3 separate regions of the Homo sapiens genome follow, and all the other regions are linked to region 2. The links come from fine-mapping of genetic effects on gene expression. A gene starts in region 2. Each other region holds a variant in brackets. All regions are shown on one strand. Distances are between the middles of the regions.

Region 1 (5,228 bases), 46 kb after region 2:
AAGTCTTTAATCCATGTTGAGGTTTGTTTTTGTTTTAGTTTTTTGATATAAGGGTCCAGTTTCGTCCTTCTGCATAGGGATATCCAGTTTTCCCAACACCATCTATTGAAAAGTCATGTCCTTTAGTTCTGAGAAATGTTTCTTAATCTTTTTTTTTTTTTTTTTTTTTTTTTTCACAATCTCTGTTCATTTTCTCTGCTCTCTTACAAACAGATGTGGAACCTCCTTACTAGTCCTGTAATTTTATCTTCTCTCTTCTTTTCTAGTTTTGATCTTTTGAGATTTCCTCAATTTTATTATCCAATCTTCTTTTTGAATTTTTATCTCTGCTATCAAAATTGTAATTTCCTAGAACTCTTTTTTTTTGTTTTTCAGTATTAACTTTTTAAAAAACCTATTCTTGTTGCATGACTACAGTGTCTTCCACTACCTCTGAATATCTTATTTAAAACTTTGTCATTTTCTTTACCTGCATTGTTTCTGTTGCCTCTGATTTTGTGTTTCTTTTTAACACTCATTCTTCACATGTCTATAGTATGGCACTAAAACACTCAGTAGAAGCTGTGTCCATGCGCAGAGCCTCTGATTGGTAAATTTCGCTACAGGTTAAACCAGCAGAGCTACGTGTGAGAAAGTCCCAACTGGCATTGTCTTTTGGACAGGTCATTTTCATGAAAGTAGAGTCCTTCAATCTCCTGCCTAGGAGCTGTGAGCCTGGCTGTTAGCATTCACAGAACCAACAGAGAAAAGGCATGAAGGGAAGGAAAATCTTAGATGTTCAGTGAGTCCTACTTGCAGCCCCACCTGTGTCTTCACCTGAAGACATCAGTTGAGGCCTTCAATGCCTGAGCCTCTGGGGTGCTCTGTGGCACCCTTCTCCCACTGTCCTGTCCATGTTCCCTACAACTTCCAAGGTTTTTTTTATTTTTATTATCATTTCCTCCCATCTTTGTTCTTATATGTTTATTCCATATTGTTGTGTTAATTTTGATAGGGCTGCAGGAGGCAGCAGTGGGGTTCATGTCCATCTGGTGGGTTTAACAGGGTCTCAGCATATTTTTTGTCCTTTAGGAATCTGTTAGTGAGATAACAGCTGTACCAGGAACTGAGTAAGAAAAGAAAACACAGTGGCTCAGCCCAACCCATATTTGCATAAACAAATGAAGGCATCTTAGTTGGAGAATAACCCTTATACTGTTTCCCCCTAATAACATAAGGCTCTGTATAGAAGTACTTGGTATTTTAGTTAAAATGTTTGCTTAGGTAACAGACTGGGCACTTATAATATGATGATATGAGCTGCATTTTTTTGTATGTGTAATAAATGTCTTCTAAAATGTTTAAGAGGAGAAAGACATAATTTAATTTTGGGTCAGACACAGTGGCTCAAGCCTGTAATCTCAGGACTTTGGGAGGTCAAGCCAGGCGGATCATTTAAGCCCAGGAGTTCAAGACCTGGGATACATAATGAAACCTCTTCTCTACAAAAAATACAAAAATTAACCAGGCATGGTGGCACAGAGATGAAAATTCAAAAAGAGGGCTAGATAATAAAATTGAGGAAATCTCAAAAGAACAAAACTAGAAAAGAAGAAGATAAAATTATAGGACTAGTAAGGAATATCTGGGCCTATGCTCCCAGATGTTCAGGAGGCAAAGGTGGGAGGATCACCTGAGTCCAGGGAGGTTGAGGCTGCAGTGAGCCCTGATTGCGCCACTGCATTCCAGCCTGGATGACAGAGTAAGACCCTGTTTAAAACAAACCGAAAAACCCTTTTGGTCTAGGATTTTTTTTTTAATATAAGGTGATTTCAGTTAACCACCCCACTCTTTTTTACTCAATTGTTTTGTGTATTTGATAAGTCACTAGCTATATACTGATATCCTTAGAAATAATATATAATAATCTTTTTCAGGTTATCAAGTATCATTAGAACTAACTCAGCCCACTAGCTAATATTTTGTTTTTGTGTTAAAAGGAAAGTTAAGGGTAAAGCACCAGGCTTAATATTGAAATTATTTCTTTTTTCATAAGTATCACAATTCTAGGGGACGAAAGTTTTAAAATACAACCCACTTTTGTAAGTGGTTTTATCATAATACTTGGAATTTAAACTATTTACCTAATGGATGATTATGGTATTGTGGCAAAAAACCAAAAAATCTCCCAAATTCAAGTTGTCTGGGATTGGAGAAATCAAATATAAGTGGACTTTAGGCATTTTCTTGTCTGTATTAATAATGTTTTACACCAGGCCCTAGAAGTTTGAACTGTGCTCTGTGCAGCCTAGAAAGTGGGGACTGACTCATGGATGAAGGCAAAACAGTCA[A/G]GGACTTTAGACAGTTTCAATGACGATGAAGAAGATTTAACAGGTAGTAGTGCTTTTCTTCCTGAGCTTTAATACCAGTGAGAGAAGCAACTAGTTCAGAGAAATTTTGTAAGCAGAATCCAGGAAAACTTATGAGTCAGGATTCAGAACCTTTAAGGAAAGCAGGTTTGACCTAAGCCAAGGCACTGACTGAAAAGAGGCTTTAAGAAAGACCTTTCGTAAGTGGAAGGAAGGATACACTGGAGATTTAGACTGGAAATGGTTTTAACAGTATATATTAGGACAAGTAAGACAATATATCAGATTCCTATGTATGTATTAATTATACCCAAAGAGTATTTCAGACTAGTCCAAAGTAGCTTTTTACTTTCAATAGTTGCCAGTATTATATTGTGCAGGACACCACAGGGAAGGGGAACAGAAAAGACAAGGAAGGCCCTGGGGACACTATTAGAAAAGTAATCTGGATCCTCTGATGGTAGAAGAAAATAGGCAACCAACTCTAAAGTAATGTAAAACAGTCTCAACTAGAGCATCTCAGAGTTTTGTTTTATCAGCTGTCTGAATCAGTTGAAAATGTCAGTTCTTTACCTTGAGCTAGTCCAGTTAAGGTTAGGATTGAAAACCATCAATCTTGAAATTTTCCAGGATTAAATTTTTTCTTGGAACCCATGAGGCTAGTTTTACCTCTGTGAGTTTCTGAGTTGTAATAGAGATACAATATTATGCAATGATATTCTAAATTATTATTTGACTTGAAACTTCTGAACTACTCAGCTTTGAATTATTTGATTTCTGTGAATCTGATCTTCAGATTTATGGTATAAGCTTTATATCTGCCATGTAAGCTTCTTTAAAACATGCCAAGGTAGAGATGTAGTTGTGTTCTATTTGTCTTTAAAAATAAATATCAATATATTTTCTATTTTAGGGCATTTGATGTAGAACTACTGTACATAGCACAGTTCTTTAAAATTCCAATAGCAGAAATTGCTGTCAACTGGACAGAAATTGAAGGTGAGTATATTGTTTATTGTATGATTGTCTTGAGTCAGATAATACAGTTGTTTAGTAAAGTCAGCTGGCTTTAATGTTCTCCTTGCTCCCCTCATCAAGCCCTTCTCAGCTGTCTTGACTCAAAGATCCAGTTCCAAGGAGAATAGTACCTACTAATACCTTCCATCTGGCTTGCTGCCTTTTATATTTTTTGTCTGTTCATGGGGCCTTCAGTAGGCCTACTACCTTGTCGAAGAAACTTCAATAAAACTTCCTACAATAGACAAAGTCATGGTGATCTGAAATTAGAAGGTTGATAGTCTTTTGAGATAGATAAATTTATTTTTTGCATCACCATTTCCTATATTTTTTTTATCACTAGGTGGATATTAATTAGGTACCTGCAAACCACTATGCAAAGCTAAATAAGAAATAAAAATTTTTTTTATGGCCGAGCACCATGCCTCATGCCTGTAATCCCAGCACTTTCGGAGACCGAGGGGGTGGATCACCTAAGGTCAGGAGTTCAAGACCAGTCTGGCCAACAGGGTGAAACCCCGTCTTTACTAAAAAATACAAAAAGATGGCCGGGCGTGGTGTCAGGCACCTGTAATCCCAGCTAGTCAGGAGTCTGAGGCAGAAGAATTGCTTGAACCCGAGAGGCAAAGGTTGCGGTGAGCCAAGATTGCACCATTGCACTCCCGCCTGGGCAACGAGTGAAACTCCATCTGAAAAAATAAATAACTAAAAGTGTTTTTACTCCAAATGTCCACAGTCAATCCAGAGCCATTTAAAAACTATATCTGTACATATATCCAAAAGTATAAAGATCCCAACTCTATAATAACTTGAAATCTATCATAAATCTTAATAATTCCTATTTTAAAAGGCTTAGACAGCTCTGGCTGTATAGAATTTTAAACATATTCTAGTTTTCTCCTTACCTTAGAATGAACCTAAATTAATTCACAGTGTGGGAGCAGTTAACATAATCAACTGGAGACTTTTTCGAAGTCCAGCTCTTCTGGTGAGAGTCCTTGTTGCAGTAAACCATTATTGCTCTGTAACCTCAGATGTTTAGGGACAGAAAAAGGTTAAGAACCAATCTCGAGATTATACAAACTGTATAGTCTAGGATGAATTCAAACCTCTTTACATCTTGCTGAATCAAACTGAGTTTACAAAATCTTAGCTCATCTCCACAGTAGCTGCCTAGAATCAAAGGGGATTGGGAAGCAGGTCAAAGGATCACTCAGGGGTATCATGATCAACTTTGTTGATTTGTGTTGATCTTTGGCCAACCTAGACTCTATGGGAAGATGAGGTGGGGAAAAGTAAAAGTCCATTTTATGTTTAGTCATTTGCTTATTTGCATTACAGAGATAGTTGTCTTGTAATATGAATTGTAGGTACCTCAACTTCCTCATTTGTGGGATGAAGATAATTTTTGGCCCTGATAAACGATAATGTCTCTACAGTGCTTTGGTGGTAATGTTTTCAGAAGAAAGCTGTCATATAAATTCAGAGCAGTGAAAAAGGTCTTCTTTAAATATAAAGTATAATTAAAATGATAATGAAATGTTAAACCTTCCTCCTGATACTTTATCTGCACGTATATACTATAAGTAATGGTTATAAGAATCTGCTGTGGCTGGGTGCAGTCACTCATGCCTGTAATCCCAGCACTTTGGGAGCCTAAGTTGGGAGGATCACTTGAGCCTAGGAGTTTGAGACCAGCCTGGGCAACACAGTGAGACCTCATCTCTATAAAAAAATTGTAAAATTAGGCAGGTGTGGTGCGTGCCTCCTGTACTCCCAGCTACTGGGGAGGCTGAGGTAGGAGGACTGGATCGTTTGAGCCCGGGAGGTCAAGGTTACAGTGAGCCATAATCGTGTCACTGC
Region 2 (5,228 bases):
AAGCAGGCGGTATGTGGTTCTGATGCAACAATCTTGATTGATTGATTCTGACAGAGTCTCACTCTGTCGCCCAGGCTGGAGTGCAGTGGCGCGATCTCGGCTCACTACAACCTCTGCCTCCCGGGTTCAAGCGATTCTCCTGCCTCAGCCTCCTGAGTAGCTGGGACTACAGGCGCCCGCCACCACGCCCGGCTAATTTTTATATTTTTATTAGAGACAGTGTTTCACCATGTACACCAGGCTGGTCTCGAACTCCTGACGTCAGGTGATCCGCCCGCCTCGTCCTCCAAAGTGCTGGGATTACAGGCGTGAACCGCCGCGCCCGGCCACAATCTTTAAAAGATTACAACTATGTCTCCTGGGACTGCACGTTCACTACACACCACGCTCACGAGCGCTCGCAGCGGGTATGGAACTCTACAGAGTCCTTTCATCTCCCGTCTCACTGAGGAAGAAGCCCTTTCTTTTCACTGTGACAACCTCCAGGTCCTCCCGCCCATCGTCTGCCTCGACGAGGAAGGAAATGGCACCCCAACGGGGTCGGCCTCCAGGTGAGAGAATCCCAGCTAAGAGTTAAAGGAAGCTGCCGTCCGCCAGGGTACAGAACTCTACCCGCCACCCGCCAACACTCACTTGAACCCAGCCGCCATCTTCCCGCCCGCGCGTCTGCGCCTGCGCCGCTCCTCTCCTGCGCGCCTGTTCCGCCGCCGCACTTTCGACACGGATGCCGGGGCCGCTCACGCCACGGGAAATGCCAAGGTGGGGACGCGACGAAAGGTCCCTGGCCCGCCCTCGCATCGACTTTCCCCTGCCCAGACGCCTTTCTAGGTTTCCTTGCCTTGGACGTATTTTGACGAATCTGCTGTTAAAGAAGGAGCGGGTCTCCCTCTTTATAAAAGAGCTGGTGCTGTGACTCAGAATAACACCAACAGTTCGGAGATAACAGGGTTTCTAGCGCAGAATCAAGCAGTGCGTGTGGAGCGTTATTCCAATGTTTCTGCGTCTTTTTTCTGCCTGTGACTTAGGCTCAGCCCTGGCCTTGCCTCTTCACTGGTCAAGGGCTCCGTGCTCCAACACATGAGAAACCTGAACTTTTTTTTTTTTTTTTTTTGAGACAGAGTCTCGCTCTGTCGTCCAGGCTGGAGTGCAGTGGCGCGATCTCGGCTCACTGCAAGCTCCGCCTCCCGGGTTCACGCCATTCTCCTGCCTCAGCCTCCCGAGTAGCTGGAACTACAGACGCCCGCCACCGCGCCCCGCTAATTTTTTGTATTTTTAGTACAGACGGGGTTTCACCGTGTTAGCCAGGATGGTCTCGATCTCCTGACCTTGTGATCCGCCCGCCTCGTCCTCCCAAAGTGCTGGGATTACAGGCGTGAGCCACGGCGCTCGGCCGAGAAACCTGAACTTTCTGTGCGCTCATTGTCCGCACCACGTTCTGCTCTGCAGGTCCCGGAGCTGAGGGCTCCTAAGCATCACCTTGTGTTGTAGACTGTGTCGTGCTCAAGGCTGCCATCTCCCTCCTAGGTGGGGTTACCAGATAAAATACAGGATACCACGTTAAATTTGAATGTCTGATAAACACAGCGTGGTTTTTTTGTTTTTTGTTTTTGTTTTTTTGTGGGTTTTTTTTTTTTTAAAGCATGAGTATGCCCCAAATAGAGCATGCAATTAGTTGTTGCCAGAACCTGGAGGGAGCTGGGAAGGCTTTACAGATAGATAGTGGTGATGGTTGCACAGTATGTATGTAATTAATGCCACTCACTATTGTAAACTTAAAATGATTAAAATGGCAACTTTTTATTTTACCACAGTTTATAAAAACTAATGTAATAAACCAGAAACCTGTAACTGGATGAGTCGTATGGTATGTGGCTATCTTAATAAGGCTGTTAAAAACATGATTAGTTTTTTAATCTGAAATTCAAATTAAGTAGACGTCTTGCATACTTGATAAACCTGGCGCCCCGCTGTGGAACCTAGCGCTCCTCTCCACCGACTGGGCGCCGAGGGCACGAGAGCGGCGTTTTCTCCGCCTCGCCACGCGGGGGCGCTGCGGCCAGCGGGCGCGACCTCTCTGGCGGCGGGGCCGGGTCGCGCGGGCGCGCTTCCGCCTGTGTGGAGGTGCGGGATTGGGCGGGCTGCCACGGCATGGAGAATGGCTCCGCTTCTGTTGCAGCTGGCGGTGCTCGGCGCGGCGCTGGCGGCCGCAGCCCTCGTACTGGTGAGAACAGGGATGGGAACCCGCGCAGGCCGGGGCTTACCGCTCTCCTGGAGACTGCGGCTCCTCAGGCGTCCCCTCCTCCGCGCTACCAGTTCTCGGAGAAGTCCCTTTTCCCCTAGATTCCCCCAAATTCCTGACCTCGGAGTTTCCTGGAGTTTCACTCTCCTTTTCTTCGGTTCTTTAATTTTCCCTTGGAATCTTATCTCTTTGTGTGCTCAGAGACTTGTAAGTTTTTTCACACTGGAGCGCACCCACCCGGCCTGGCATCATCGCCGCTTCCATCGCCCCTGGCGCCCGCGCCCCCTACCCACCTCCTCTGTCAACCTCGACCTCTCCCAGACTCTCCGGGACCTGCAGCCGCTGCAGTTCTGCTCCACCCAGGGAGGTCTCGAGCCCCCAGAAGGGGTGTGCTCCCTAGCCTGCTCCCTTGGCTGATGTGGTTAAGCAAATAGGGGTGACGGAGCCTTGACGGCAGCCATCTGTTACAAATGGGAATAAATGCGTGGATCGATGAGACCCACTAGGGACGCAGGGTGAGCGAGAGAGACAGGCCTCAGGCGCCTTGTCCGGGGTCGCATTGTGTCCCAGAATTAAGCACCCTAAATATACTGCCCCTAAACAAGGCAGGACGATAGAATGCAAACTCGATTGTCTTTGCCCTTGCTCTCGAAACACAAAAACATTGTAAACACTTGCTGATTGTTAAGTGGTAGAAAATTGGCGAACTCTCTCCCGCACACCTTGGAATGAGCCTGCCCTCTAGTTAGTAAGTGGAGAGGATTTCAGCTTCCTTGACATTCAGATTAGCCACCTAGACAGCACTGCCAGGAAGGCCACTCTGCCATCTTTCCAGAGGTTGTATAAATTTACAGTTTAGATAAAATGTAATGCATCCTTACTTCTTTGTTGATAGTATCTGGGTGAGAGAGGAGTCCTCTCTTGCCCTAACTAGTAGAGATTTCAGGGTTTAGGGCTTTTTTGTTTTTTCAAGTTTTTGAGCAAACCAGGATTGATTGATTGATTGATTGATTTTTGGCGGGGTGCGGGCGGGGAGTGGATTCACACATTCTTAGATTGAAGCTGCCTTACTTTGGGTCTTTTGCACAGATTTTATGGGATTGTACTGACGGTATTTGTTCCCACTAGCTTGAAGTGATAAGAGCTACCATTTATTGATTGTAGTACTTACTATATGTTGTGTTGCACTTGGTTTAATAGGAGTTATTAAATCTTTAACACTGTGACATATATGTTATCATTAGCATTATTTTACTGGTGAGGAAACATGTTGGAGAAATGAGCTCGTGTACTCAAATGTTGCACAACTAGTGAAACTTAGGTTTTTTAAATGCCAGAGCAAGAAATCATTAAAAAAATAATTTTTCAAAACCTCATCCTGTCTTCATATGTATCCACTCTCCATTACTCACAGTCTCACCTCCTTTCTGAATTATTTTAAAACAACTCGAAGACATTTTATCTTTAAATCCTCAGCATTTATTTCTAACAGATAAGGTCCTTCTTTTTAAAATACCACAATAAAGTGGTCACAGATTTAAATTTATTCTGTGATTTCAAATGCCCCCTCAGTTCACTTGCCCTCACTTGTCTCATATATGTCTCAGTATATATGTCTGTTTGTTCCAATCAGGATCCAAACAAGTGCCACACATTGTACTCTGTTGATGTCTTGAGTCTCTTAATCAGTTGACAGTTTCTCCTCCCCCTTTTTTTCTTTTCCTTGTCTTTTTTTTTTTTTTTTTTTTTTGAGACGGAGTCTGGCTCTTGTCACCCAGGCTGGAGTGCAGTGGTGTGATCTTGGCTCACTGCAACCTCTGCCCTCAAGCAATTCTCCTGCCTCAGCCTCCTGAGTAGCTGGGATTACAGGCGCCTACCACCACTCCCGGTTAATTTTTGTACTTTTAATAGAGATGGGGTTTCGCCATGTTGGCCAGGCTGGTCTCGAACTCCTGAACTCAGGTGATCCACCCTCCTCGGCCTCCCAAACTTCTGGGATTACAGACATGAGCCACCGCGCCCGGCCTTTTTCCTTGTCTTTAATATGATCATTTGTCCTGTAGAACTTCTCACAATTTGGATTTCTTTGATTGCATCCCCTTAATGCCTTTTAACATCTTCTATCTCAAATTTTCTATAAACTGGTAGTTAGGATGGAGAGACCTGATCACATACATACTCGATGTGTTTTTTAATCAAGAAAAAATTGTGAGTGATGCTTCTTCCTTTCTCTTGTGTCTCATCAGGAGTCATGTAATGGCCATTTGTCTCTGGTGTTAAGATGGATCTGTGGTTTCAAATGTTGCCAGCCAGACCCACCAGTTTATAAAGTTTGTCATCAGCCTAATGGTTTTAGTAGTCATTGAGGATCATTACCTAAATGCTTTATTTCATTGCGGGTTGCAAAGTGAAATATTCTCATTGTATCCTTCATTTATTACCTAGAGTTTTGTAATGAAAGAAATCTCATCCTCAGCTATTCATTTACCCTAAAATACCTTTCATACATATAAAACGCAAAAGGCAAATTTTTGAAATGAGATCCTTCCTGCATCTTACCCAGTTTTTGTCTTTAGTATCATTGCAAATTTATGATTTACAGTATTTTTCATGGTTTGATCCATTGCAGTAATTTTTTTTGGCAGGGGGGAAGTGGGAGGACGATCAGATTCTTGCATCATAGGCCACTGAGAGCCCATTCAGGTTGACTACTTTGTCCTTTCAGCACAGCCCTTATAATCTTTGATAATCTTTGATTATAATCTTATAATCTCTGAAGTGATAGTAGTTGATGATGGCAGTAAAGATCAGACCTCAAAGATCAAACCTCAGGAGCTGATGACAATGACAATTTGATAATGTCTTCAAATTGATCATTAAATTACAAATGAATAGCATTCCAAAAATTTAAAGACTGTTTTGAAAGCAGAAAGTGTACCAATAGAAACAATGTAAAAACAATGGTTATTTCCAAAGCTTAGCTCCCAAG
Region 3 (5,228 bases), 55 kb after region 2:
ACCTGAGGTCAGGAGTTCGAAACCAGCCTGGCCAACATGGTGAAACCCCATCTCTACTAAAAATACAAAAATTAGCTGGGCATGGTGGCAGGTGCCTGTAATCCCAGCTACTTGGGAGGCTGAGGCAGGAAAATCACTTGGGGAGGTGGAGGTTGCAGTGAGCCAAGATCACGCCACTGCACTCCAGCCTGGGTGACATGAGTGAGACTCCGTCTCAAAAAAAAAAAATGCAGTATTAAATCATAACTGCATAAAATTAATAATTTCGTAGCCACCTCCTGTTGCTATTGCATGAGCTCAGGTGTTGTAAATATCCACTTATATGCTGTGTGACACTAACCATCTCCATATGAGCAGTTCATCTCTCCAGTAAATTGCATATAACAGTAGAAATTGAGCTCTTGGAGTTCTCATGTGTTTTTCATGTTTAGTGCAATACTGTAAACCTTGAATAACACCATGGGACCGATATGAAGTACCATTAGTAATGCTGGAAATACTCCCAAGAAGCAGAGAAAAGTCATGACATTACAAGAAAAAGTTGAATTGCTTGATATGTACCATAGATGAGGGCTGCAGCTGAGGTTGCTCACCATTTCAAGATAAATGAATCCAAGCCAGGCATGGTAGCTCATGCCTATAATCCCAGCACTTTGGGAGGCCGAGGCAGGCGGATCACCTGAGGTAGTTCAAGACCAGCTTGGCCATCATTGTGAAACCCCATCTCTACTAAAAATACAAGAATTCGCCAGGCGTGGTGGCGGGTGCCTGTAATCCCAGCTACTTGGGAGACTGAGGCACAAGACTCACTTGAACCCGGAAGAGGGAGGTTGCAGCAAACCGAGATTGCACCACTGCACTCCAACCTAGGTGACAGAGCGAGACTGTCTCAAAAAAATAAATAAATAGTGTAAGGACTATTGGGGAAAAAAAAAAGAAAATTTGTGAATCCATTGCCACTACTACATCTGCAGGTACAAAAATCTTGCAATTTTTGCAAAATACCTTTTCTCTCATATTGAAAATGCAGCTTTTAAGTGGGTACAGGATTGCTATAAGAAAGACATACCTATAGACTCTAATATGATTCACAAAAAGGCAAAGTCATCATATGACAAGTTAAAGGAAGGTGAAGGATCTAAAGCTGGGGAATTTAATGCCAGAAATGAATGGTTCATTTTAGAGGTTTGGCTTTTAAAAAAAAAGTCAAGATAAGGGAGAAGCAGCTTCTGCTGATCCAGGAGGTAACACACGAGTTCCCAAACACCATTAAGAAAATCATTGAGGAGAAAGGATATCTGCCTAAACAGGTTTTTAATGCAGACGAAAGTGCCCTAATCTGGGGGGTGGGGGGGTGGAATGCCACAAAGGACATTTATTAGGAAGAGAAGCAAGCACCAGGATTTAAGGCAGGAAGAAACAGGCTAACTGCTGTTTTGTACAAATGCAATCGGGTTTATGATCAGGACTGCCCTTATCTGTAAAGCTGCTAAATCCTGAAAGGAAATGATAAACATCAGCTCCCAGTCTTCTGGTTGTACAAGGAGGCCTGGACAATGATACCCCTTTCTCTGGATTGCCTGCATTGATGTTCTGTCCCTGAAGTCAAAAAGTACCCTGCCAGTGAGAAATTGCCTTTTAAGGTTCTTTTGACATTGGACAATGCCCCTGATCACCCAGAACGTCATGAGTTCAACACGGAAGGCTTAGCAGTTGTCTACTTGCCCCCAAACACAATGTCTCTAATTCAGCCTTTACATCAGGGAGTCATAGGACCTTGAAGGCTCATTACACACAGTTCTCTATAGAAAGGATTGTCAATGCTAGAACAAAAGCCCAACAGGACATGAAAGGCTGGAAGGGGTTGGGGTCTGGTGGCTCACGTCTGTAATCCCAGCACTTTGGGAGGCCGAGGTGGGAGGATCACTTGAGGTCAGGAGTTCAATACCAGCCTGGGCAACATAACAAGATCCCATCTCTACAAAAAAATTAAAAAATTAGCTGGGCATGGTGGTTGGTGCAGCCAGTAGTCCTCACTACTCGGGAGGCTGAGGATGGAGGACTGCCTGAGCCCAGGAGTTTGGGGCTGTGGTGAGCTGTCATCACACCACTGCACTCCAGCCTGGGGAACAGAGCAAGACCCTGTCTCTCAAAAAAAAAAAAAAAAAGTCTGAAAGAATTATACCATTGAAGATGCAAGCCATCGTTATAGAAAAATAAAAGCTGTGAAAGTCACCAAGTATGAAACAATAATTCCTGCAGAAAACTGTGTCCAGATGTTGTGCATGACTTCACAGGATTTATGACAGAGCCAATCAAAGAAATCATGAAAGAGATTGTGGATAGGGCAAAAAAAAAAAGATGGCAGGTGAACAGTTTTGAGATATGGATGTTGGAGAAATTCAACAGGTAATAGAGACAACACCAGTGGAGTTAGCAGAAGATGACTTGATGAAGATGAGTGCTTCTGAACCAGTGCCAGATGATGCAGAAGAAGACATACAAGAAGCAGGACTCCAATTATTGAAGTCTGCTTGTGACTTCTTTTACAACTTGGACCCTTCCACAATATGGGCACTGAAACTAAAGCAAATGGTAGAAGAAGGATTGGTACTGTAGAGAAACATTTTTAGAGAAATGAAAAAAAATCAGACCAGAATTATGATATATTAATATTTCCATGAAGTCACACCAAGGGTGCCTGCCTCTCCTGCCTCCCCTTCCACCTCCTCCACCTCTTCTGCCTCTGTCACCTGGGAGACAGCAAGACCAACCCCTCCTCTTACTCCTCAGCCAACTCAATGTGAAGACAAGAATGAAGGCCTTTATGACGACTCACTTCCACTTAATGAATGTTAAATATATTTTCTCTTACTTATGGTTTTCTTAATAACATTTTCTTTTCTCTAGCATACTTTATTGTAAGAACGCAATATATAATACATATAATTTAGGAAATATGTGTTAATACACTATGTTATC[G/A]GTAAAGTTTCCAGTCAATAGCAGGCTATTAGTAGTTAAGTTTTGAGGGAGTCAAAGTTAATGGATTATCAACTACACAGGGGTTAGCACTCCAAACCCCTGCATCGTTCAGGGGTGCACTGTACTTCTACTCGTAGTTGATTCTCCAGTTCTATGTTCCACCTTCTTTATTCAGTTATTTTATTAGTCCTTTCTCAGATTGCTATAAAGAACTACCTGAGACTGAGTAATTTATTTAAAAAAAAAAAAAGAGGTTTAATTGACTCATAGTTCCACAGGTGTACAGGAAGCATAACTGAGGAGGCCTCAGGAAACTTACAATCATGGCAGAAGGTGAAGGGCCTCAGGAAACTTACAATCATGGCAGAAGGTGAAGGGCCTCAGGAAACTTACAATCATGTCTGGAGAAGGAGGAAAAGAGCAAACGGAGAGGCGCCATACACTTTTAAACATCCATGTCTCTTGAGAATTCACTCACTATCATGAGAACAGCAAGGGGAAAATCTACCACTAAGATCCAATCATCTGCCACCAGGTCCCTCCTCCAACACTAGGGATTACAATTTGACATGAGATTTGGGTGGGGACACAAAACTAAACCATATCAGTTATAATTTCCTTAAGAGCAGAAACTTTGCCTTTATTTTATTTGTTTGTCTCTACAGCATCCTAAATTGTGATTGTTCAATAAAGGAAATGGTTAGATAATGCTACCATTTCAATTCACTCATCGAAAAAATAATTCTATGAACGAGATTATCCATTTTATTGACAATTAAATCCCCTGAAGAAGAAGTCTAGAGGACTGCTTTGTTTTTGTTTTTGTGCAGTCTCAAAAATGCTTTGATTGTGTTTTTGTGCAGTTTTTTGTTTGTTTTTGTGCAGTCTCAAAAGTGCCAAATCCACAAATTGATAAATTTATTTTGTTAATCCAATAATAGACTCTAATAAGTGATATCTTTTTGATTCGCTGATTTTGAAGTAAAACTCCAGTTAGTATTTTGATGGTCACAAAACATAATACTTTACCTAGATTTGATCCTGTCTAAATTCTGATAGTACTGAGAAAGGACAAAGGGGAACAAAAGAGGTCCTTACCTGAGCAGTATCACAATGCACCTCAAAAATACTGCTGGGGCCAGGCGCGGTGGCTCACGCCTATAATCCCAGCATTTTGGGAGGCAGAGGCGGGTAAATCACTTGAGGTCAAGAGTTTGAGACCAGCCTGGTCAACATGGCAAAACCCTGTCTCTACTAAAAATACAAAAATTAGCCGGGCCTGGTGGTGGGCACCTGTAATCTCAGCTACTCGGGATGCTGACGCAGGAAAATCACTTGAACCCGGGGGATGAAGGTTGCAGTGAGCCAAGATCATGCCACTTCACTCCAACCTGGGTGAAAGAGCGAAACTCCATCTCAAAAAAAAAAAAAAAAAAAAAAAGACCAAAAATACTGCTGGGGAAAACAAAGTCATAAGGTCTATATCTCTGACCCATTAATATTACAGTAACAACATGTACCTCTGTGCAGGGTAGATGAATGTCACTGCAGCTTTTTCTATCATCGCAGAAATAGTAAAACCTAGGGCCCCAAAGCTATAGTAATTGCAAAACATGTCCCAACTCTCCAGTGGTGTGAATTTATTTAAATCTTTTGAAATAAAATTGTAAGGAAAATAAAAGTCCTTAACATCGCACTATATACACTATGAAGTGTAAGTCCTTCCATCATCCACTCAATGATTGAATGCCTAGCAGTTCTACTTTAAAAAAATGTCTATTCTCGAGGGATCTACTTAGAAAGAAAGGAATATGTTAAACATTTAAATTGCAATGCAAATAATATGAGATCAAGAAGCCAGATATGTTCTGAGGAAGGATGAATCTTTGCAGTCTAAAATTAGGAAAATTTCCCCTAAATTGTTGCATCTCTATGGGACTCCGCATGCACAATGCACAACTACAATGTAAGTAAAATCACCTCCATCTGGGAAGATAGTTTATATACTGTCAGTTCCTTTTGATCTTTGTCATTCTTTTTCGTTTTTTGCCTTTTTTTTTTTTTTTGAGACGGAGCCTTGCTCTGTCTCCCCTGCTAGAGTGCAGTGGTGTGATCTCAGCTCACTGCAATCTCCTGGGTTCAAGCGGTTCTCCTGCCTCAGCCTCCCAAGTAGCTGGAACTACAGGCACGTGCCACCATGCCTGGCTAATTTTTGTATTTTTAGTAGAGACGGGGTTTCATCATGT

Alleles and levels. Alleles are on the strand shown, and positions count from the first base shown. SD is a standard deviation of normalised expression in the study named. Not every link is listed here.
For the expression in thyroid of the gene that starts at base 2,116 in region 2, A is the low allele of the variant in region 3 and G is the other (small effect, 0.12 SD a copy in GTEx).

What was found. PIP is the estimated chance that this variant, and not a neighbour inherited with it, causes the effect.
Region 1: its variant is the best candidate, but not a certain one, in a credible set for the expression of ALG5 in whole blood (INTERVAL, PIP 0.80).
Region 3: its variant is the best candidate, but not a certain one, in a credible set for the expression of ALG5 in thyroid (GTEx, PIP 0.60).

What each region holds. Positions count from the first base shown.
Region 1 is chr13:36,950,633-36,955,860 of GRCh38, reverse strand. ALG5 (ALG5 dolichyl-phosphate beta-glucosyltransferase) reads left to right here. Exons shown (of 10, transcript NM_013338.5): 9 at 3,262-3,347. Among named protein-coding and RNA genes, the nearest start is that of SMAD9, 33 kb to the right of the region's middle. The variant A/G (reference allele first, on the strand shown) is at 2,331.
Region 2 is chr13:36,996,228-37,001,455 of GRCh38, reverse strand. ALG5 (ALG5 dolichyl-phosphate beta-glucosyltransferase) reads left to right here and starts at 2,116. Exons shown (of 10, transcript NM_013338.5): 1 at 2,116-2,221. The coding sequence starts at 2,156. EXOSC8 (exosome component 8) reads right to left here and starts at 670. Exons shown (of 11, transcript NM_181503.3): 1 at 634-670. The coding sequence starts at 650. RefSeq lists enhancers at 101-160, 381-640, 841-930, 1,391-1,440 and a silencer at 1,901-2,200.
Region 3 is chr13:36,941,640-36,946,867 of GRCh38, reverse strand. No RefSeq gene overlaps it. Among named protein-coding and RNA genes, the nearest start is that of SMAD9, 24 kb to the right of the region's middle. The variant G/A (reference allele first, on the strand shown) is at 2,983.